Linked DNA regions of Homo sapiens: all the other regions are linked to region 2. The links come from fine-mapping of genetic effects on gene expression. A gene starts in region 2. Each other region holds a variant in brackets. All regions are shown on one strand. Distances are between the middles of the regions.

What was found. PIP is the estimated chance that this variant, and not a neighbour inherited with it, causes the effect. A credible set is the group of variants that fine-mapping cannot tell apart.
Region 1: its variant is the best candidate, but not a certain one, in a credible set for the expression of MYO1D in whole blood (TOPMed, PIP 0.86).
Region 3: its variant is the best candidate, but not a certain one, in a credible set for the expression of MYO1D in tibial artery (GTEx, PIP 0.60).

Annotation. Positions count from the first base shown.
Region 1 is chr17:32,811,719-32,819,898 of GRCh38, reverse strand. The region is part of intron 1 of MYO1D (myosin ID); the gene reads left to right. Among named protein-coding and RNA genes, the nearest start is that of MYO1D-DT, 61 kb to the left of the region's middle. The variant G/T (reference allele first, on the strand shown) is at 4,741.
Region 2 is chr17:32,872,835-32,881,014 of GRCh38, reverse strand. It overlaps MYO1D (myosin ID), which reads left to right and starts at 3,891. Exons shown (of 22, transcript NM_015194.3): 1 at 3,891-4,237. The coding sequence starts at 4,143. MYO1D-DT (MYO1D divergent transcript) reads right to left here and starts at 4,160. Exons shown (of 4, transcript NR_184086.1): 1 at 4,122-4,160; 2 at 3,054-3,171; 3 at 2,380-2,715. RefSeq lists silencers at 4,172-4,359, 3,566-4,555.
Region 3 is chr17:32,488,892-32,497,071 of GRCh38, reverse strand. It overlaps CDK5R1 (cyclin dependent kinase 5 regulatory subunit 1), which reads right to left. Exons shown (of 2, transcript NM_003885.3): 2 at 5,819-8,180. MYO1D (myosin ID) reads left to right here. Exons shown (of 22, transcript NM_015194.3): 22 at 2,157-4,550. The coding sequence ends at 2,313. It overlaps LOC124903982 (a long non-coding RNA gene), which reads right to left and starts at 1,624. Exons shown (of 2, transcript XR_007065716.1): 1 at 781-1,624. RefSeq lists silencers at 3,896-3,945, 6,669-6,790 and an enhancer at 5,521-5,640. The variant A/C (reference allele first, on the strand shown) is at 3,584.

The sequences.
Region 1 (8,180 bases), 61 kb after region 2:
CTTAGCCACTTGCTAGTTGTGTAACCTTAAGCAGGTTACCCAAAGTTCACTATGCCTCAGTTTCCTTCTCTGTAATATTAGATCCTATATAATGTGGTTTTGAGAATTAAAAATAGTTAAGTCCTTAGAACAGTATCTGGCTCATACTCAAAGCTTCATAAATGGTAGCCATTATTATTATTCTGGTAGGAATTTGGAATTAAGAAACTGAATAACTAAAAGAGTTACTAGTAGAAACTAAAGGTAGAGTGTCATGAGATAGAACAGTGGTTTTTATTCCTTTTTGGGGTCATTGCTTTCCTGAAGCATCTGATGAAAGTATGGACATTCCCTGCAGAAAAGTTCATAAGTATATATAAACAATAAAATCAAGGTTGAAAGCACCTGATGCAGAGAATGATGGAGAGGAGGCCACAGCAAGTCAGAGCCATGTGCAAGTCAGCCTTGAGAAGGAGCAGAAACTGCCACCAAAGCAGAGGGAACTGTTGAGTAAACGGAGGGGAATGGACTGAATGAAAAGGCAGAAGCAGAAGCTGGGAGATAGCCCTTCAGTTCCGGTCCAGTGATTTCTACCCCAGAATTCCTGTGAGATCTCTGTTTATCTCCTCACAGCCAACTTCCCTGCTTATAACCAAGCTAGCATAGCCTCCCTTCTTGCAATCACACTATCCAGACCGAAAAAAAAAAAAAAACTTGAAACCAACTTCTACATGATGAAGCATTATTGCTGTGTCATTTCAGATTTCTTTCAGCCAACATTATGATGTTTTCCTGTGGTGTGATTATATCAACAGCAAATGCTTTCAGAGTAAAGTGAATAGCCATCTGTAGTTACTTTTCAGCGGCTGCTAACTTCCTTTTTTGTAGATAGAACACTTTCCAGGCATATCCTAGTTTTTAACATTCCACTTTAAGGAAAAAGCAAGGAAGAAGTAACGTCAACCTATCTCTCTAGTAGAATTCTCTTTTATTTCTATTAATTTTTTAAAGTTTTTAAGCAGAAAATGAGGCAGAACTTCATAAGATTTTGTAGGTGAAAAGGATTTTAAGGAATTTTCCAGGCCCATTACATCCAAAGAAAACTGGACCCTGGTATCCTATTGCATACTTAGTCTAATTTAGTCCTCACAGTAACCTTATGTGATATAATACCCTTCCTTACAGATGAGGAAACAGGCTTAGAGAGATCTGACCCCTTGCCCAAGATCGCTATAGCAAGTGGTAGAACCAGGATTTGATCTCAGGGTTTTCTGACTACAAAGCCTATGCTGCAATGCTTCACTGGACTCTAAAACTTAGGCTAGAGAAGAGTGAGGCTTTCACTTTATTTCCCCCATTGGTCTCTCTCTCAGCAGCTCTTCTAGAAAAGAAGAATGGGAACTTGCAAGCCCCATTTTTTTGATCCTTGAGCCGAATGGGTCTTGAATGTGTCCATCGAGCATCTGCCTCCGTTGCAGTGTCATCTCAAGTGGTGGTACCTTCCCACTGGGCTGGAGCTACTATTGGATACTTAGCCAACCCTCCTTCCATAATGAGGCCTTCACATGGGACCACAGCTCAGCATTGCTGGGAAGAATGGTCAGAGACTGCAGGGGCAGCAGCGATCCACAGTTTGAACAGAAGCATCACTAAGACTTGTTTACAGACTATTTGCAGGATAGAGGTGTGGTTAAAAGCACTGGCTCTAGAAGTAGACTGCTTAGGTGAATCTCAACTCTTTCACAATACTTGTAGGGCAAGAACCTACTACCTCTTTTTTTTTTTTTTTTTTTTGAGACGGAGTCTCGCTCTGTCGCCCAGGCTGGAGTGCAGTGGCGGGATCTCGGCTCACTGCAAGCTCCGCCTCCCGGGTTCACGCCATTCTCCTGCCTCAGCCTCCCAAGTAGCTGGGACTACAGGCGCCCGCCACTACGCCCGGCTAATTTTTTGTATTTTTAGTAGAGACGGGGTTTCACCGTTTTAGCCGGGATGGTCTCGATCTCCTGACCTCGTGATCCGCCCGCCTCGGCCTCCCAAAGTGCTGGGATTACAGGCGTGAGCCACCGCGCCCGGCCCCTACTACCTCTTAAAGTCTCCATTTCTTTATCTGGAAAGTAAGATATTTCTTTAAAAGTGCATACCATATAGGGTTGTTGTGAAGATTAAATGTGATAATGCACGTAAACCACTTAGCTCAGTGCCTGGCATGGTAACGCTCAGTGAGTGTTGGCTATTACTATACTACTTGAAAACAGTTTAGAGAAAAAGCAAAGAAAGAGGAACATCAACCTCTACTGGATCCTTTTATTTTGGTTAATTTTGAGTTTTTGAACTGAAAACAAGTCATAAATGTATAGGCTTTTATAGCTGGGAAGGATTACTTTCCTTGAAAATGGTAACTCCTGTGTTTAGCTGACAAAACCAGTTTTTAAACTGCAGTCATTTTATGAGTGTAAAATATTACCTTCAAAAGGCATAGAATGTATATGCATTTTATTACTGTAATTAAGAGAGGTACAAATATGTTCTTGTTCCAAGTTTTTTGTTGCTAAACCATTAAATAATCTGGTGGTTGTTTTCCTGTTACTCAGCAACATAAAGAAGCTTCAGTCTTCAGTCTTCAGTCTTCATATCTTTTTAGAAATGCATAAAATTTGTAGATTGCTAATGTATTCTTGTAACATTACTGTTAGCCAGGCATGGTGGCTCATGCCTATAATCCTAACACTTTGAGAGGCCGAGGTGGGAGAATCACTTGAGGCCAGGAGTTCAAGACCAACCTGGGCAACATATCATGACCCTGTATCTACAAAAAAATTTAAAAATCACTGTGAAGTAGCTAGCAGATAATTACTATTTTTATTTTATTTATAGCAATACATCTAGTACCTCATTAAATAGAAATTTGAGGTACAAGTAGTTACTTGCCTAAGTTACATAATTTTTCCTCACCAAAAACTTTTTATTCTGTGGCATTTCTTACCGCTTGTCATCTTTTTCTTTAGTTAAAAACACTAATTTTTTTATTATTTAAAAAAATTCAAAAAGGGACTGTATTATATTGGAAGAAAGACTAAATCCTGTGTGTGTGATGAAAATGGATTAAGGTTTTGATGTTGAATTTTAAACTCATACTTATGCTACATCCAGGAATTTTTCATAATATCTGCAGTTGAGGTGAGTGCATCCATTTATTAGATTTAGACCACTTAATATAAAAACAATGAAGTAACTCAGGATTTACTAATTGTAAATACATAGTATAAATATGTTTAGAGAAAAATTATATGCAAATGTTTTTTCCCTTGCCTAGAATTTGAAGATATTGTTAAAACATGGCAATCTATTGCAAACTTGACTGTTTAGAATCAAACAGAATTATTTAAAATTCAGTTTTAATAGTACTACAGCAATCAGGTGGAGAGAAACCAAAATAATTATTAAAATGATTTCAAAGTTTAAGACGAAAAGTAAATAACATTGGACTAAGTTTCCAACCTTTCCCTTGGTCTAGGACATTAACCTTCTCTCTTTAGCTGCCTAACCCTTATGTATCCTTCTGGGCCCTGCGTTTGTCTCAGTGAAGCCTTTCCTAACCTGGTCAGGTCTCATGTTTAATACAGTGTTAGCACTGTGACCTCTTCCTATATCTCTTGTTTGTCTGGATTGTAATAATATGATTGTTGATAATTTTTTAAAACTGTGTTCCTCACTTGACTCTAAGTTTGATCAGGGCAGGAACCAAATGTGCCCTTTTCACTCCCAGACGCTTAATGCAGTGTTAAACATCACACTAGACCCACAGACATTCTCAATAAATATTTATTGACTGATAGATGAATGGATTCCTTGTTTAGGATATTGTAGCTGAGAGATATTGAGAAGAATCAACTGGCTACTTCCCACTGGTTTTCAGATCAGTTAGTTGCTACTAGGTTACCATGGATAAAGGATTTGTTTATAAGCCCAGAAGTTTAATTTTATCCTCTTGATTCTCAGTTATTGATACTAGTAAACAAACTTACAAGAAACTAATTTGTATGAGAGAATACAACCCCGAAATTTACATAGGAAAATGTACCTAGAAACTGGGGCTTGTGGTCTATACAGGTGTGGCAGAGACGGTAATCACTTACCTTGTCCTTCTCAACATTTCCTACCTAGCTTGCAGTTAGGTGGGGACCACAGGACTAACCTGTGGTATTGGCCAATGAACTCTGCACAGAGTGATGTGTCACTTTGAGGCCAAGGGAATTCAGAGCCAGCATGCTTTCTTGTTTGTTTCTTTTGCCAAAGCGTGTGCTCTTTAGGCCTCCTGTTCTCATTGGCAAATCTACGAGAGGGAAGAGGGCTGCCTGACCAGGATTGGACTTAAGCATAATAACTATGCTTTTAAAAAAGTTAAGAGAATAAGAACTAACATGAAAATTTAAAATATTTAAGTCATTATCATTGATATTTTTCCATACTTTAGAGATAGTTCTCACAATTCTTGAGCCACAAGTTTGGAATGATTTCTTCTACCACAATATTTTTGGTGTCTTCCTGGTAAATAAGGAAAATCCAGGTTGAAATGGGCAACTTCTATAAGTCAAGAGCTGGAAAATCTTTTTTCCTACAGTTTATGTATTTTAGCAGTAGTTTATGTAGCAAAATGGATCTCTTATGAGATAATTTTTTCATTAAGTATTTTTTCAACAGAATTATATTTGAGCCTTGAGCGCCTATTTTCTTCAAGATATTGTTAAGCTCTGCAAAGGT[G/T]AGTAAGTCATATATCTTGTCTTCAGTATTTTACCATCCATAACAGACTGCTAATTATTCAGCAAAATGTGTTTCCTGTTCTTTGGAGGCACATCCTCCCTTGCAGTTACGTGTCATGTGACAGAGTACTCATTGGTGGAATTTCTGAGGTCTAGACACTTCTAGGTCTAACTCATAAAAGCCTCCCGCAAGTGATTCTCCATTCTCTGCCACTTTTGTTGGCTGGCTGTTGATGCGCAGCGTAACTTGAAGTCATGTGTTGAAGATGGAAGCGTTTTTGTCGGACATGTCACTGAACAGTTGCATGGAGCAAAGGCCTACTCCCTCCCCACAGAAACGTTTGTATTGGACTAATGTATGGGTAATAAATCAACTTCTTGTGTAAAGCCACTGAAAGTTTGGAGTTTATCTGTAATTGCAATTAGCATTATTCTAGGCAACTTCTAATAGATGATACAGCAATTCCAGTGTGAATATTTAAATTTTCAACAATGATTAATTTGTCTTATTTGTAATGCATCGTGCTTAGAAGAGACATGTTTTCATTTAAAACAGTCTGCTAATTCTTTCTCTTGCTTTCATTACTCCAAATTATATGTCTCTTCTTTTAACAGCCAACAAATGGCTACTCTGATTAAGGAGGCCCTTCATTATCCTTCTTCCTCTCACACCGTTTTATAAGGTCATTTATATGGTTTCTGTGCTTACAAATTCATTGAGCATTTACTCTTATTTATAAGTGCAGTAGGAAAAAAAGAAGGGATAAATTTAGAATGTTAACACAGAAGTGTTTTTTGTTTTTGTTTTTGTTTTCTTGAGACGGAGTCTTGCTCTGTCGCCAGGCTGGAGTGCAGTTGTGGGATCTCAGCTCACTGCAACCTCCGCCTCCCGGGTTCAGGTGATTCTCCTGCCTCAGCCTTCCGAGTAGCTGGGACTACAGGTGCACACCACCACACCCAGCTATTTTTTGTAATTTTAGTGGAGACAGGGTTTTACCATGTTGACCAGGATGGTCTCGATCTCTTGACCTCATGATCTGCCCACCTCGGCCTCCCAGAGTGCTGGGATTACAGACATGAGCCACCACTCCTGGCAAGAAGTGTTTTTTAGATGGCTGACCTGAACTCTGGCAGGTCACTTTTCTAAAAAGTGTTGCTGCCTCGAGAAAGTTACCAACATGTGAAAGCTAGTTTGTATTAAACCTTCCACCTAATGCCCATGGCAGAAATCTAGTTATTCTTGATTCATGTCTGTCCTCACCATCTCCACTCCCATCTGATCAATCACCAGATGAGGTCAATTGAGTCTCCTAAATATCTTTTGAGTGTGACTACCACCATGCTCTAGTGTAGGTTTCTATCAAGCATCCCATGGACGCAGCTGTCTCTTAACTGGTCTCCATAGCTCCAGTCTTAAGACTTCCATGCTGTAGCCAGAACTTCTTAACATGACTTGGAAGGCCCTTGCATCATCAGCAATTAATTCTCCTCTCTTTTCTCTAGTTTTCCTTTCCTTTACTGTTACTGTCCTTTCTGTGCCTTGTGCTCCAGGCTTACTGAACTTCTTTCCATCCTTTAAACATGCTTTTTTCTTTCTGAAGCCTCTCAGCCTCTGTTCCTGCTGAGATCTCCATGTGGCACACTACTCTTTCCCACTCCTCCTCCTCCACCCCATCGCCTCAATAATTCCTACCCATTCTTTAGTTTTCAACTTAGATGTTACTTCTGGGATCACCTTCTCGGTCCTTGAGGTCTGGGTTAACTGCCTTTCATTTGTACTGTAATATATCTCCCTGCATTTCCTCTAATAGCTCCTTTGTTACATTTTCCTTTTACTTGTCTGCATCCCCTACTGGGCTGTCTGGAGGAACACAGACCATAGTTATGTTGATCACCATTGTATCTAAGCCCTTGGCGTATTGCTTAGCACAAAAAATATTTGTTAGATGAATGAGTAATAGGTTGTGTAAGAACCTAGTCTTTTTTCAGACTTGTCTGTAGAGTGATATTTGAGGATATAATAAAGAAGAGACTGAAGTCAGTGCCAGAGTATCTTTTCACATATTGGGAAATCATCAGTGAAGACCGTTTATAGGAGAAATGATTGAATGCTGGATAGTTGTTGAAGATTGAACTAACAAGATTTGCCAATGGATTGGATGATGGGTGTGGATGACTCCATGTGTATAAGTTATATTTGCTTGGCAAAATTGTTCATGAAAAGTTAATGTCGCCATTATGGTTAAGGTGATTGTGAGAATTAAATGGCCTATACATATAAAGTCTCTACCTAGTCTAGTGCTTGGCATTTTGTAGGTACTCAATAAATATTATTTTCCTATTTGTAAGTGACTTAGTGCTTTGTTAAGGCAAGGAAGCTGAATGTGTTATAACATGCTGCTGTTTCTAAGCAAAACTGTGCAGCAGGTGAAGTTGGTGCCCAGTGTCTGCTGGAACTTCTGCAGTCCTCTCCGTTGTCCTACCCAGAACCCCACAGGCTATATCTCAAGGTCAGTACTCCTTCCCTTGACCTGGTACTCTACTTGTCTCTCCAGTTCCCTCACTTGGAAGGCTTATTACTCTCATGTTTCATCCTGACTTCCTCTAACTTAAGTGTAGGTAACACAACATAAAGAGTTAAGAGCATTTACTCTGCTGTCAGACTGCTGGGTTTGAACTGTGGCTCTATCACCCCTGACCTTTGTAACCTTTTGCAAGTTACTAGACCTCTCTTGTCCTCATTTTTTACCATATGTAAAATAGGAAGAGAAACTCTTAGAACTGTGAGAATAAAAGAGATAATTCTTGTAGTACATTTGAAATTGTGCCTAGCACATAAAAAACACTGAATAATTGTTTGCCATTTTGAGTCATAATCATACCTGATGACTTCAGCCACTTCTGTGTAGCCCTCAATATCCCTTCTGTACCAATTCTTGAATTTCTGCACTCCTGTCCTCTCATCCATCCTTTGATCTTGTTTCCATTTGGAAAAGTAAACTCAAACTCAGAATTCAAAACTAAACTTATCAACTTCCCTATTAAGGCAAGCTTATCTCTTTTTATAGCAGAATGTGTTGGCTACAAGTAGTAATAGAAAAACCCAAATAAAAGTGACAAACTACAAGGAAAGTTATTTCTCTCCCATAACAAGAAGTGTAGTAGTAGAATGGGTCCTGGGTTGGATAATTCAGTTGCTCAGTTATGTTTTCAAGGACCCAGGTGCCTTCCATTTCCTCAGCATTTTGACTTGTCCTTTTAGACTGGCTCTCCTCAACTCAAGATGAAAACTCAGGCAACACGTGCATATGACAGCTTTCAAAAAGGATTGCCCCACATCTTTACTCAGATCCAAGAAAAGCTTCCTAATCTCATCAATGACAAGAGGACTGGAATTCCCAGCTTTACCTTAGACTAACCAAGATCCATTCTCTTGGAGCT
Region 2 (8,180 bases):
CCAGCCCTCATGGCCCTTACAAACGAGTGAGAGAGACAGACAGTAGGCTCAAGGGCATTTAGTACTGTAATGGGGGCAGCACTTCCAGGATGCTGCAGGAGGCACAGAGGAGGAACAGCCAATTCTGACTCAGGAGATTATGGAAGCCTTCTTGGAGGAAGTGATGTTGAGACTGAGAGCGGAGGGATGAGCGGAAGTTAGCTAGGTCATAGGAGTGAGGGGTGGGGTGGCGGGGAGAACTTCAGGCAGAGAACAGGATGCACCTTCTCAGGGGCATATGGGTATATTTGACATCTAATTATTTTTGTTTTTAGAATTACCTGTTCAGTGTTTATAATCTCCTAGCACATCTATGCCAAATAGAGCTAAGAGGTACCCTGGACCAGGGTTTTCAAAAATATCTGCTGGTTCTTCAGTTCTGGAAGGTTTGCAAAATTCTGATGTGACTTTGATTTCTAAGTGTTATTTAATATTTTTAAATTAAAAATTTTTATTTAGCACAGTTTTAGATTACTATTTAATTTTTAAGTTTAAATTTCAGGCCGAGTGTGGTGGCTCACACCTCTAATCCCAGCACTTTGGGAGGCTGAGGTGGGCAGATCATGAGGTCAGGAGCTTGAGACCAGCCTGACCAACATGGTGAAACCCCGTTTCTACTAAAAATACAAAAATTAGCTGGGCATGGTGGCATGCACCTGTAGTCCCAGCTACTCAGGAGGCTGAGGCAGGAGACTCGCTTGAACCCGGGAGGCGGAGGTTGCAGTGAGCCGAGATCGTGTCACTGCACTTCAGCCTGGGCGGCAGAGCAAGACTCCGTCTCAAAATAAATGAATAAATTTCAAACTAATTGCAAAGTTACAGAAAAGTTGTGAGGATAGTACAAAAGAAAATCCCCTCAAAAGTCCCATATATTTTTAATGACTTTACCACTTGTTAGTATTTTGCATCATTTGCTTTAATCATTTATATGTCTACCAATATATATGCACGCCCTCCTTCCACCTCCTCATCTTATTATTTTTATTATTCTTGCCAAACAGTTCGAGACATCATTTTACTCCTAAATACTTTAGCAGATACCTGCTAGAAACAAGGACATTATCTTGCAGAATCCCAGTAAAATGATCAAGTTCAGAAAAACTAGCATTGATACTATCCTACTATCTAACATCGCGTCTATATTTGAATTTCACCAATTATCCCAACAATGTCCTTTACATTTTTCTGGTTGGAGATCCAGTCCAGAATCACCCATTGCCTTTAATAGTGATGTGCCTCAGCCTCTTTGTCTTTCACATCATTGATATTTTTGAAGAATACAGGTCAATTGTTTTGTAGGATGCCCCTTAATGTGAGTTTGTTTGATGCTTCTTCATGATTAGATTCCATTTACGTATTTTTAGCAGGTAAATGATATGTGTCTTTTTCAGGAGACCATATCAGGAGGCTCATGGTGTCTGTGTGTCTCATGATTGGGGATATAAACTTTTATTTGTTTTATTTTTTGTATATTTTAAACTGTAACAAAAACATGCATCTCCAAATGTGTTTCTATTCAAATTTTATCACAAAGAACATTCATAATGAGCTAATCTGCTCTAGGTTACCTTGACTGAATGCAGACCAGAGTATTCAGTCTCTCCTGCCGGCTGTGCATATACCTGAACTTTGCTCAAGTGTGTCATTGATTAATAATGTTGTAACTGCACATTGGCCTAGAAATGCTGAATGTAAAGTTGTATGGGTAACAAATTACTGCTTAGTTATACAAACAAGAATTTGCTTGACACAGTACAATGAAAACAACATACAAAAGTAAACTGGAATCCTGAGGCTAATAGTGAGCCCCATTGAGCAGATTTGGGTTCATCATGAGAGCATCAATGCCTAATTTTATACTAATTTGGACTTATACAAGAAATTAATAAAATACCCTTTGCATATGTTGTATATGTGTTTTATATGTTGGGTTCCTATATAAGATGTTGATTAAAATGAGGATCTCTTACTTTGGCCATTTGGAAACCACATTGTATCCCACCATAGCTCCTAACCACTGTACAATTTCTGCAACTCTCTCATCATCTGCAAGCCGTGATGTTTCTTTTCCTGGTACCTGGGATTTTGCCCTAATTTTTAACACCTACAGAGCTCAGGGAACACACATATATAATTTACCAAAAGGTTTTGGGGTGTGGTCCCTGGATGCTCCAAAGTGCATACAGTTTGAGATTTCTTTCTTTCCTTCTTGAAGTTCAGTTCTGCTTATGTTAAAACATGCCAATACAAACATTAGGAATACAACCATACCCTATGCAATAACCTACTTAGCCACTGACCGACACCTCCACAAATGACCCAACCATAGGACAGTCCTACCTTATTCCAGAGCTTTTATTCCACAAATGAGGACACTGATATCGAGACAGGTGGATCTCCTCCTTCTGAAGGACAGCTGCTAACGGTAGTCAGATGCAACCCAGCTCTGCTGGTGCCAGGGATTGGGGTGGTTTTCTGATGGCAGAGGCAGTCCCTCAGGAGGTGACAAAGCTCCTTTCCTTTCTCTTAGCAAGTGTGGGTGGCTGGCAGCTGAAGCAGGCCTTGGGCAAGGTCCTTCAGTCTGGTTTACTCATCTCAAACTCAGCCAGAGTTGAAGCCCAGCCAGGTCCTTGGAGGCCTCTAGATTTCCTCGTAGATTTTGTAATAGAAGATGTCCTAACAGAAACACAGGACTGAATAAATGTAGATACCTTAGAAAGTCATTTATTTAAAAAAAATAGCTGGGCATGGTGTCATACACCTGTAGTCCCAGCTGCTCAGGAGGCTGAGGCTGGAGGATTGCTTGAGCCCAGGAGTTTGAGGTTGCAGTGAGCTGTGATTGCACCACTGCACTCCAGCCTGGGTGACAGAGGGAGAATTTGTCTCCAGAAAAAGAAAAAAAAAAAAAAAAGAAAGAAAGTCATTTGTAGTATATTTTCTTTGGGAAAATACATTGAGTTCAAAAAGAATTTTCCAAGCTCAACCAATGTATCAATAAATTGGAGACTACTTACAACTCACTTCATTCCACTGAACCAGTATGGATTTCATATTTATATATGCAAAGTAGTACAATAGTTATTTGGTGGATGCAAAAAGAATGGTCCCATGCTCAAGACATCCGCAATAATCCTGGAGAGATGATACAAAGATATATTAAAAACTTAATAATCATATAAGGTAATGTCTGATGACATGCTCGGATGAGTGGAAGAGAAAATGGGCCACTGAAGAATGGAGGTAGTCAGACGTGGTTGAACGCTGCGGCTCCTAAGTCAAATGACCTGCGTGAAACCGCAGCTGCTCCACTTCCTAGTCGTATGGCAAGTTTCTTAAAAGTTCTCTAAGGCGCTGAGAACAGCTCTGGGCATTTTTGGTGCCCCAAAAATGTTAGCCATTATTATTACCTCTCAGTCTGTGCTTGAACCACCACTTCAAGAATGGGCAGGGTGTGAGTAGAGAGGCGGGAGTGGGTTTTGGAGCAGGGTGACAGAATCATAATGAATTGTCCTCGCGAAAAGCTCCACGAACTACTTTTCTAACTTTGTTGGCAGCTACCAAGTGTGGGCGGCAGGCGGCCATCCTCTTGGCCGCCTGAGATCCCAGCGCCTGTCCCCAGGGGGCGCTGCCACCCAGCTGCCGCCGCCCGGCCCAGCGCGCGTCCCCGCCGCCCACCCGCGCGTGCGCGCCGCCCAGGTGAAGAGGCGGCGGCCAGGGCCGCGGCTGGGGCGGGCTCCTCAGTGGGCCGGGAGGGGCGGAGCCGGGAGGCCCGGGCGGGGCGGAGCCGGGACGAGCCCCAGGCTGGAGGCGGGACCAGCCGCTGCCGTCTCCGTCTCGGTGTCCCGGCCCCTACAGCGCCCGGCAGCCGCGGCGGGAGGAGCGGAAACTGTCGGGTGCGTCCCGTTCGGAGCCGCGCCGGCCGAGAAGGCGCCGAGGAGCAGCGAGGCGGCCTCTGTCCGGCCCGGACCCGCCGAGCGGCGTGCGCGCCCCCTCCCCGTAGCCTCGCGGCGCGGCCTCGCCCCGGCCCCTCCCGAGCTCATCGCGGGCCCACGGAGCGGCCCCGGAGGCCCGAGCGCGCCCACCTGAGCCCCCGCGCTGGCGCCATGGCGGAGCAGGAGAGCCTGGAATTCGGCAAGGCAGACTTCGTGCTGATGGACACCGTCTCCATGCCCGAGTTCATGGCCAACCTCAGGCTCAGGTGAGGGCGGAGCGGCCGCGCGCAGGGGCGCGAGGCTGCGCTTTCCCGAGAGGGGGCGCCTCGGGGCGCGGCCGGATCCGGGGTGTCGGGAGCGCCCAAGCTCCAGGGATGGAGGCGCGGCCGGGCTGCGGTGTCCGGGGGTCTGCCAAGCTCCGCGGCTGCGCTTTCCCGAGAGCGGACGCCCCTGGGGTGCGGCCGCTTTGGGGTGCGGGGGGCGTGTCGAGCTCAAGGGCCGCGCTTCCCTGAGAGGGGAGCCCTGGGCGCTGTCCGGGGTTTAGGTGCAGAGGGTGTGCCGCGCGGGAGGGCGCGCTTCCCCGCGCCAGGTGAGGGATGTGGGCGGGCCGGTGACCTCATGGAAACTGAAGGGAAATAACTTGAACGAGAGTTGCGGTGGCCCCGAAGGCCCTAGGAGGACTGGAGGATTATTTTGGAGAGAGGCTGGCGTCTCATCCCGGCTTTACACTTGCTTCTTTTCTTTCTTTCTTCGCCCTTCTTTTTTTTTTCCTCCTGGCGTAGTTCCATCCTGTCATTCAGGATGCTATGGAGTGATCCCTGAGCTGTCTGTTCCGGGACACTGGCTATTTTTTTAGTTACTCTCTAAACGTAATTAGACACGTTTCCAGACATCGAAGAGACTGCTGTACTTGCCAGTGCCAAGATAAACTGTCTGAATTTGACAAGACGTTCATGGTTTTGGTTTTTTTCAAGGAGTTAGTGGATGGAGCTCTTGTGTTATTAACATCCTTGAGAACGTAGTCACAACTCAACGCCCCAAAATGGGCTTCCAAGATGTGGATTTGTTTTAGAAAGCCCTTTACATGCGATTATTTCACCCTTGATAGAGTAATATGTAAACAGTTTTAAAGTAGTTTGACTTAAACATTAAAGTAAGTGGAATTTCAAAATAGCTGAGTTTTGGTGTGCGTGTGTATGTTTCCCTGCAAGCTTTGGCTGCATTTCTTCTAAGGTTTATAGCTAAACATCATTCCTTAAGCTTATAAAGTGAAAGTCATAATCTAGGCTTGGGTGCTTAACCCTAATTTCATTATTAACTACCCCTGTCAATCCAGTTGACAGGGGTCAATCAGGTTGATTACATACCAGCATAATGATAGGATGTTACATTTCTGATCAAGGTTTGGATGTACAACTTTTATAGAAATCACCCCAAATATTAATCAAAATGATATACCTCTACATCAGCTATAACCAATACCCATTATCATAGTGATTAAGAGTCAGACTGTTGAGATTCAAATTCTAGTTCCACTGCATTCTTGCTGTGATCTTTGAGCAAGTTACTTAACCTCTCTGTGCCTCAGTCTTCCCGTCTGTAGGATTGGGGTTGTCCTGAGGGTTAAATGAATTATTAATAATATGTGTATACATACTTCAAAGATTAGTGCCTGGCAAATCCATATTAGTAAAACTGTTTTAAGTTTTCCCAAGTGCACATAAAATAGATAAAGGGGTAAGTTACATAGCAATTTCATAGATTAAGGTTGTTTTAAATTAAGAGATTCTACTCCTCTCCCCCACAGGAAATAAGTTGTGTGCTTTGAGAAATGCCTTTATAATTTTGTCACTCTCAGTTATAATCATTTCAGTTTTTCAGACATTGGTACATTTATTATGTACATACTGTATACAAGACCATGTAGTAACAGTTGAATATGAAGCCTTTCATTTTAACCTCCATCTTTCACCTCCAGCAAATACATGGGCTTAGCCAGAGCTTTTGCAGAATTTTCAGAATTTGAAATTGAAGGCATAGAGTCTAACAGGGCTACATTAGTTTGTAGGACTACTCCTCTGTAATAGAATTAAAACTCTTGTGGTTTTTAAAAAGTAAATTGAGGGAAGGCACTTAGAATTTCTGCTTTTTTTTTTAAAGCATTAAGTCTCTTAAGTGTGAAGTTTGAATCTCAAAATAGATTACTAAGGTGAGCCTAACAACTCCTATGTGTACAGAAGAGAATGCTGCAATTTATTTATATTTATATTTATATTTTTTAGAGATGGGCCCTTAGAGTTGCTATGTTGAGCAGACTGTTCTTGAATTCCTGGCCTCAAGCAATCCTCCCATCTTGGCCTCCCAAAGCACTAGGATTATAGGTGTGAGCCACCATGCCCGGCCGAATGCTGCAATTTAATTCTACTGTGTGCAAGGTACTCTAGGAGATAAGCTAGGAGTATCCAAAGAACTACAAGATGTGCTGCTTACCTCTCGAAGAGGTGACATCTCAATGAAGACCTGGAGAAAGGTGGAATTTTCTATTGATTTAAAGAATAGTTCAAGAAAACAACATCAGGAGGCTGAGACAGAAGGATTGCTTGAGCCCAGGAGTTCAAAGCTGCCGTGAGCTATGATCACACCACTGTACTCCAGCCTGTGTAATAGAGCACGACCCTGTCTCTTAGAAGAAAAAGAAGAAAGAAAACAGAGAGAGACAGAGACACAAAGAGAGAGAGAGAGACAGAGACAGATAAAGAGGAAGGAAGGGAAGGAAGGAGAGAAAAGAAAAAAAGAAAGGAAAAGAAAGAGAAGATAAAAGCCTTATAAAGCTTAGGTGATTATTTGTCAAGTAATTATAGAAATTGTTCTGGAAGTTCAGAAGAGAGAGAGATACCTTAGGTTGACTCCAAAACACCTTATAGAGGAAGAGAGGAGTTGAGCTGAGTTCCAAAGGATGGGTAGGATTTGTAAAGGTGGACTCGTGGCTGGAGAGCATTCCAGGTGGATTAAGCAGCATGAGCAGGGGTTGGCGGCATGAAAGCTGACTCTGGGTGACAGTGAATAAGTTAAGTTGTTTGGAAGGGAAGGGGTTGGTGTTGTGGAGAGGTGGGAGGAATCACCAGCTCTCCATATGGCCATTGGCTAAGGCCCAGGTTTTTAGGTCTACCTTTATACCCAATCTCCACATCATTCAAAATCCTGGGTGTACAGATGTATATGTATTTGTATGTATCTCATCTGTGTGTCCTTGATGACTCTGAGAACTGGCTGTGGTTCTCATTGTACAGATCAGTGATTGTTCATGACTTACTTATACATTAAAATAGTTGGTTCCCTGTAGCCATAAACACAGTGCCAGCAAAGGGTAGCACCCTTACCCTCCTCTGAAACTATAAATTCTGACCCAGACAGAAAACAGTCCTCTCTTTCCTTTCACTTTGCAGAAGGTGACCAGAAACCCACCACTGCGTAATCCAGGTGCTGTTCTGTGATGTTGAAGTGTTTTTGTCTCCTGGAATATTGGTGGTTGGGCACATATTTCTGGTTGTATATAGCTGAAATTGAGCGTGTTTGGTCCATTGGTATATATGGATGTGTGAGTGAAATTCCCATGTGTGCTTGTACCTCATGACTCCTGCCCTCCCAAGCTGTAGTTCCTGCTCTTACTCCCCAGTCTGGAATGTCCTGTCCTCCCTTCCCACCTGGCTCTTCTGCAAGGCCTGCTTCCTTCCTTTAAGTCATGTAATAGTCAAGCACTCAAGGCTGCAGGTGCTTCATGGGTCTGTGTTTTCTCAACAGCAGCACCTAGCATAATGCTGGGTACAGAGTACATTCCTTCATGACAACATTTTTTTGTAGAGAGGGAAAAATGCTTGTTACTTTTTTTTTTAAAAGCTTATGTGGCATTGTCCTTTTAGAATTATCTTCTTGTTTTGCTATTAATCTGGCCTTCTTTTTCCCTCTTGGAGCTAAAGCTTGATTTTTAGACAACTGCCACAATTGATGCAACTTTCTCCTACCATTTTTACTTTTAAAAATTGACCTAGGCCGGGCGCGGTGGCTCACGCCTGTAATCCCAGCACTTTGGGAGGCCGAGGCAGGTGGATCATGAGGTCAGGAGATCCAGACCATCCTGGCTAACAAGGTGAAACCCTGTCTCTACTAAAAATACAAAAAATTAGCCGGGCGCGGTGGCGGGCGCCTGTA
Region 3 (8,180 bases), 380 kb after region 2:
GAGATACACGGAGCCCAGAGGAAGCAGGGAGGGTGGAGGCAGGGGCCACCCTGCTGAGCGGGAGTCAGGAGAGCCCTGCACGGAGGAGCATGCCCCGATTGTCTGAACACGAGAGGGTGAGGGTGAACTAATGGTTCCCATTTTCTGTCTCTTAATTTTTTTGAGCTGACGTGGAGCGTGGCCTGTTTAGAGCCCATTCCCTCAGACTGAGTCACCAGGTGATTCTGGAACCCACTGTGTACATGCAGTTCCCCAGGGAAGGGCGAGGGCAGAGTCTGGACTCCCTGCACAGGGAAGGGCACAGGCCCTCCAGGAGGGCGAGCAGGGGGAGGCCGCTGCCAGGGTCAGGAGGGAGGCTCCCAGAGGACAAGAGTCCAGTGAGAGGGACCCAACGCCATACCAGGTTGACAGAGGGGAGGCAGGGAGGCCACCCCAGCTCAGGGACCAGCCTGGTCCTGGAGGCATCTGGTCCAGCACGAGGGCTGCAGGGGCCCCACCTGGACCCCGCCGCCAAGGGCTGCACATGAGCCCTGCAGAGCGGCCCTGGTGCCCACAAGAGTAGAAGAGGGCCTGAGTCACGGCCTCTGCTGGGCTCTGCTATTTTTATGTCCAAGTCTGGTTAAAAATAGCTGTCTAAGCTCAGGTTTTAGCTGCAGCTGACAAGACATTAAGTATTAGATACGTAATGCCCACAAGTGACAACCGGGGTCTCTTCCTGTGTCCGTGAGAAAGCAGGGGGGAGACAGCCATGAGGAGAGCCCCTGAGCACCCCGCACTTACCTCTGAAACTTTGGGGCCTGCTGTGGGGCGCGCCCACCAGGTGTCCTCAGAAAGCGTGTGCTGGGCCAGGTGCTCTAGTGACACCCATTACTCTGGGCACGCTGACCCCGTGGAGCCACCGCACGTCGGAGCCCTTTGAGCTGCCTCGGCGTCTGAGCAGTTGCGCCTCCCGGGCAACCAGTGCTTAGAAAGTGCCTCACGTGCTCATGGCCTGGTGAAGGCGACTCCAGGCTGGGCAGAAGCTCAGCGCATGCTGGCCTTGGCCCTGGCGTTCCCCTGGCCGTGTGGACACGACAGCTTGGCGTTCACTGCCCAGCACTAAGAGCAGCTCCGTAAGTCCAGCAGAGCGTTCAAAGCGGGACCAACCTGCCCACGCCCCAGACGCCATCCCGAGAGCAGTGAAAAATTCCCAGGGCTTTCGGCATACGGAGCAGAGCCAGCCAGTCCTGACTGGAGGCTCCGAGGTCAGGAGGCTTCCTCCTTTCTCCTCTCCCCTCCCAGCTCAGAGCTGACAAGGCACAAGCTGAGGTACAGCGTGGGATTGTGCTGCCTGTGTGAGCAAACATTGGGGTGCCAGCCTATCGCGACAAGTGTCTCTGCTTTTAAAACCAGCAGCAGCTTCTTAGCATGTTCAGCGTCGTGTGAGGAGCTGGAGGAAGGGCTCGGGCTCGGGCTCTGTCCAGCAGGAAGAGCACAGCTTCCGCCTCTGCACCCGACCTGGAGCCCGGCCGGACGCCCGGCTGAAGCCGCCTTCATGTGCTCCCAGGCCAGCGGGGCTTCCTGCTGCACAGGGTTCCCTGCAGCCCCCGGTGGGGCACCGGCTGCACTGTTCTGCAGCCTCCAGGGTGGCAACCAGCCAAGCGGCCCAGCTCCAGATGAGAGCAGCCTCTCGCTTGGGGAAACCCAAGTCAGGCCCACTTCCACCAGCCGGGGTGTGACAGGCAGGGACCAGCCAGGAGCAGGAGACATCTCTCTCTCTCTCTCTCACTGGGGCATGTGGCACGGGTCTCCCGCAGGATGGATTAGTGTCAGAGTCAGAACCCCAGCCCTGGTACACCGAAGGACCCAGGGGCTTGGTCCTCAGCCCCAGCCAGAGACCTGGTGGCGTCTGTTCAACCACATGGCCCTCCACTGTCCAGTCCCATGCGCTGGCATGGGAGCCAAGGGCCCTGCCATGGTGCCGAGGCTGTGGTTGGAGGCCCAGCTAGTGCCACACTCGCCTTGCCTCGGCCTCTCTGGGGCCCTTCAGGCATCCTCCTGGCACTTGTGGAGGAAGCAGGCTGCGCCGGAGCCAATGGTGGCCGGGAGCTGCCGGGCAGGTGCCCTGTTCTCATGCTGCCTGCTAACTGCCCGTCTGGTGTTTTTGGTTCCTGCAGTGAGAAGCGCCACCTTCAAGTGAACGTCACCAACCCAGTACAGTGCAGCCTGCACGGGAAGAAGTGCACCGTCTCCGTGGAGACGCGGCTCAACCAGCCCCAGCCCGACTTCACCAAGAATCGCTCGGGCTTCATCCTCAGCGTGCCCGGGAACTGACGCCCCGCGGAGGCCTGGCCCGGAGCCCGGCCACACTCCGAGTCCTGGGTCCCAGTCCAGCTGCTGCCTCCCAACCCATGCCCGCTAGAAACCTGCTGCGAGGGCCCCTCCCAGAGGAGCCCCGCCCCTGTAAGATTTCCTTCCTGGTTTTCTGCCTTTGGTATCATCTTCCTCTGTCCTTACTGTCCACGGTCCCTGTTCAATAAGCCAAAGACCCTGGTGCCCCGCCCAGACCCCTGGGCTGACGTCCAGACCAATCTCACCCCAGAGGCAACTGGATGGTGCCTTTAGTTGGTGCGGATGCCCCGTGGCCAGGTCAAGTCAGAGCACCTGGACAGGTGTCCTCCCTGCTGCTGACCCTGCAGAGGGAAGGGGTGGGGATGCAGGACCCCACTCTGCGGGAGCCCCATAGCCACCTCTCTTGCCCAAGGTGAGCCAGCCCTGGGGACCCAGCTCAGGGAGGCTCTGCTCAGAGTTCGGCGGACCCACCCCAACCCAACTCCCAGCCGCCAGCCAAAGCCACTGGGTGAGCAGAGTCACCCACAGGGCCAGCCCCTCAGCCAGGAGCCAGTGGCAGGAGCGGAACAGCCCATCCAGCAGAGTGAGTCCATCCTTCCCAGGTTCTCCCCTGGGAGACTCCCTTTGCCACCAAGGCCCCCACCAGGGCCTCTGACCACCGCTCTGGAGAGGACAGTGTGGCATGCTCCAAGGATCATCTTACTTAACTCGCAGCCTGTGGCTGTGGTCCTCTTATAGATACTTTCACCGTTTGCAGGGTTGCTAATCAGATACCTGCTGTCACCACACTTGGGTCAGGAACCCTAATGAGAACGGGGAGCTGCCAGGGTGAGGGCAGCCCTCAGGGTCGGCCGCTTTCCCTCTGGACCACCTCCCGCTGCGTTTCCTACTCAGAGAAACAGCAAGGGCGGGGTCAAGACACGGGATGACGGGAAGCAGGAAGCGGGGCAGCAGCACAGCGTGGGGTCCTGGCACTGCAGGCCAGGCCAGGATGCCCACCCCGCCCTCTACACGGCCCCTTGGGGCCTGCGCCCGTGAAACTGGTGCCAGGGAGCACTGCCAGCTTGCCAGTTTCTGCCCAGCAAAAGCACGTATGCTTCAGGGGCCTTCTGAGACCACCTTCCCCACTGAGCCCCAGCTGCTGAGAAGGCCTTGAGGGAAGTAGAGGCTGGGAGCAAATGCCCCATGCGGTGAGAGGATGAGGGGAGCCTACGCCTCAGGCATGTGGTGAGAGGATGAGGGGGAGGGAGCC[A/C]ACGCCTCAGGTGGAGTGGGCAGAGGTGCAAGAGAGGGATGTACTGAAGCTTCTTCCCGTCCTGCCACAGACACTTCTCCTGCCTTCCCACCCTGACCCGGCAGAACCCACCAAGTGCCTGTGTGCAGCCTCCTGTGCCTCACCCAGGGCCTGACCCCAGAGTGGTCCCAACAACCCGGTCTCATGCCCACTCCCCATCCCTGCTTCCCAAAAATTGCACTGTGTGCAGTTTGCAACAAAGAATCCCGCTGGCATCCTGTCCTTGGGAACCCTTTCTCATTCTCCAAGCCTGGTCAGCTGCCTGCACAGGCAGAGGTGCCCTCAGCCCAGATTAGCAACACTCATAGTTTTGCCAATTACCAGTAGACACTAGTGGAACCATCTAACTGGAACTTCCTCTCTCCTTCCACTTATTTCCTCAAACTTGTTGCTTTACACTAGACACATGCAAATGTATGTTTTAAACACACCAAAACAGATCATGCCAAATGAGTTGCCTGTCAAAGGCTGGAGGGCAGGAGGAGGGCCTGGGTTTGGGTTCTTTCCTCCCAGCCTTTGGATGGTGCCTTGGGCCCCTTAGCCCCAGCGCCAGGGCCTCCCAGCTGAGGCCACAGGACAAGCACTTTTTTATGATGTACTAAAAGCCACAGTATGTGGCAACTGCAAAAGGATCAGGAATTTAGGGTATGATCTCGGTCACGTGTCCCGGGCGCTGAGGGGAAAGGAAGCGGGCATGATTGTAGACAATGAGGGGGTTCTCTTGATGTAATGAAATGCAATTTTATGGTTTGGTGCAAAAACTCCTATTTTCCAGTAAATTAACTTTATTTCTAAAGCATATTTTGATTTGCCATCAAGAGCAATAAAGCATTAAATCTTATTTTTAAAGGTGTTCTGCTTATCTGTCACTGAAAACTTGGTGAAATTTTTGCTTAAATAAAGTCAACCATTATCTGGGAGGATAGAAGGGAGAATTAAGCACAAATCATGTAAAATGGAGGATGATTTGCCTGAGGCTTTTGAACAAAAAGTGAGCAAGAAGCAAGCTGTGGACCGGAGGTGTGAGGAGGGAAGGAGGCCGTGGGGTTGAGTCCCAGCACTTTCTCCTGCCATCTTGAGGCCTGTGCGCTGGCAGCTGGAAGCACACTGCTTAGTGCCAGGGAATATGTTTACTGCAATAGAAGCACGTATGTAGAAAGGAAAGGCTCAGAGACCTACAGCAGCAGACTGGGGACAGGCCAGGCCAGCGGAGTGAAAGGTGCTGGGAGGAAGTGTGGGGGCGGCAGGGAGAGTGAGAGGAAGCAGCAGCTCCTCCTGGGGAAGGGAGCAAGGCCCTGAGGGAGCAACAGGGCATGGCCAGCACCCAAGGGTCCTGCAGCCAGGGTGCTTCCGGTCACTGGTCATTGGCAGAAAAGAACACGCAGCGGTGGCTTCTGTAACTCAGACGAAGGCAGTTGCTTTGTGGAAAGCAAGTGGCCTTGATCACAAGGCTGACAGCTCCCAAGCTACAACTTGAGGACAAGAAAGACTTTCCTAGTACTCAGGAGCAGCTTCAGACCGCAGGGTGCAGGGCCTGGGGAGGGCCACATCCAGCATCCCCATAACCCTCTTCCTGAGGCTGACGCTGGTGGCACGTGCAGGCCTCAGGCTGGCAGTCAGGACAGGTACAGATAGAGCTGGTAGGAACCCCACCCTTGCCGCAATTATGGGCTGGAGTGGCTGCTTCCCTGGGAGCCACAGGGCTGGATTTCTCCCTCCTGGAAACCCGCATGGAGCTAAACCTGCAGGGTTGGCCCATGTGGACGCCAGCCCACCCCTGCTGGCCTGGGAGACCCCGGGGGAAGGGAGCACAGAGCAGAGCCAAGCCCAAGAATACGTGGGAGCAGCAGCTTCAGAGTCACACCTCGACACAGGGAGTCTAGGGTCCAGAGCCCCTGCAGGACCCACCCGGCCAGACCTCACCAGGCCATGCTTGGGCCTGACCCTCCTTGGCCGGAGGTTCCAGTCACCCAGCTCTGCCACGGGAGCCTTTGGGAAACAGCTGCCCTCACCTCGGCCGACGCTAAACCAAAGCTGACTTAACCTGTGCTTCCTTCTTAATCACCTTAGTGTGTTAAGCCCTCGCCCCCAACTCTGTCCTCCCCTCCCCAATAACACAAATCCAATTATGTTCTGAGTGCATGAATCATTTAGTAAAGGGGGCCCCAGCCTGCCCACAAAAAGAGGTCTCTGTAATGGATGGTCAGTGCATTTTATTGAATCAGCACAGTACAAAAATAAATAAAAATAAGGGAAGGGGAATTAAATTACAGCCAAACTGAGCTTCATGACTTTGTCAGATTATAAACCACACATACTCACAAACACACTACACATACATACAAAATGAGACAAATATAAATTAATATTAACAATACCCACAGTTTGGTCAAAGAATAGCTACAGAAGAAATTGCACTAAAAAACCAACATACATCACACGTGTGTAATTAGCAGTTTCAAATATACAGCTATGAATAATTCTGAGTGAAAAAAATGGCACATTTTCTTTTCATTGCAAGTTTAACTGTTGGAACAAAACTAAGTTCTAATAACTGCATGGAAAGAATATATCAACCCTCCAGGTTTACAAGAAAAAGAGAAAAACCAAATCCTGAACTATTATTCCTGTGGCTTGTTCTGTGCATGGGTGTAATTTTCACAGCCATCTGTTCTAAGATTATTTTTCTTAAGACACAAAATGCTCCTGGTTTGCATGCACAATATCACCGTAAAAGCAACAATTAAAGAATAAAGGTTTTTTTGTAGGTTTTTTTTTATTGTTGATCTAAAAGTAGTCTTCATAGCAGCATGGCAAATGGGTTCTTTGCTTGCACACTCAAGTATATCAGTTGTTCCTTTACACAATACTGATGACCAGTGCAAGGGGAGAGAACACGACAGGCTTCACACTGAGGGAACTAGAGAGTTCTTCCCTTAGTCCCCACCACTTCCGAAATGTCCACCTCCTCCGAAGAATAAAAAAATAAATACGGAGAAAGAGAAGGAAACAGACACGCAACTGGAATCCTGTGGATGCAACGTAACTGCACAGTTCGCAGCCAGGTTCCGCCAGCTGAGGGTGATACACACATGCGCCCTCCTCCTGAGACTTGGCACTGACCCTCCCTCTTCCATGCCACCAGGGGCCTCCCACCTCTGGTCGCACGCGGCAGCAGGATCTGAAGACAGGCTGTGTGGAAACCCAGCAGAGAGGAGGTGCTGTGTGAAGTCTGTGCCAGCAGCCGCAGGCTCCTTCCACCGCTGCACCGATTATCTGACAGTCCCAGGAACGGCTCTGCTGGGCCTCAGGTGCAGCAAGGCAGATGTTCTCCGGCCGGGCAGGCTCTCTTCCCCACCTCTGGGAATGCCTCCAGCCACCAGGTTCTGCCTCAGGACTCTTAAATTGGGACTTCAATTTCACAGCTTTCTTTTTGTGTAAATTTCAGTAGTGCATGTGCTGAAATCGGTAGCCACCTCGAACTTAATCCTATGTAAAGTGACCCTCTGCCTCCCCACCCCAGGTCCCCATTCCAGCACTCCCCAGTGGACTGGGCCTGGAAGACAGAATCCTCTGTAGTGTCTTCACATTGGTCTTTGTTCTCCACAGCCGAGTGATGGGCCATGGAGGAAGGCTTGCTCCCTCTCCCAAGTCCCAAGCCACCAATGCGGGAGAATTAGAAAGAAAATCAATAAAGTACACATTTGTGTTTTTACAGCCAGTAGGGTAAGGTGGAAACCAAAACCAGCAGCTGCAAATGATCAGTTGTAGAAATCAGCAGGCTTCCAGAGCAATCAGGAGTCTCACTCCCCGTCTTGTAATTGTCTCCAAGATCCGGCTGTCTCACTGGTCCTTGCTGGGCAAGGCTTCCTCTTTAGAAGAAACTCAACTGTTTAGAAACAGCTTTAAATTAACGGGTGGGGGTGGGGTCACCACATCGCCTTCCCCCCAGCTCTGCAGGACAAATGTCATGTGCACCAGCAAGAGGCCTTAGCCCTTAGGTGGGCACCGGCTTGGTCTCAAGGTATGGCATCCCTCACCTTGCCCAGAAGGCAGGCGTTGCTAATGGGCACCTGCAGCTGTCCTGGCATTTGCCACAGGGTGACTGCACTACATTATTCAAAAGAAAAACTCACCCAGGAAAGCTGTCCCCAGCTTCACCCCACCTCTTTAGCTGGGACCCAAATTGAGAGAAATTAATGAGTCAAACCAGCTCATCGGCCAATACCACCAACGTGGCTGGGAGCAGCAGACAAGGGGGTAGGGGGGCGAGTTCCATTTCTCCACTAAAGAAAAGCCCTTCTCCCTAAAAAAAGAAAACAGCAAATCAGGGCGGTGTGTGGTCAAACGACCAGACACAATCTTTCCACTAGACCCGCTCAGCTTCGCCTCGCCTAGATTGAAGATGTCCCCGGGTGGCGGGGATCTTGCCTCACGACCCCACTGGCAGCTCAGTTAGGGTGGCTGGCTCCAGGAGCCTCTGGGAGAGTGAATAACTCCACACAGGAGCCAGAAAAGGGCCTCCAACCAGAAACCCCAATTCCTCCCTGGGCCAGGC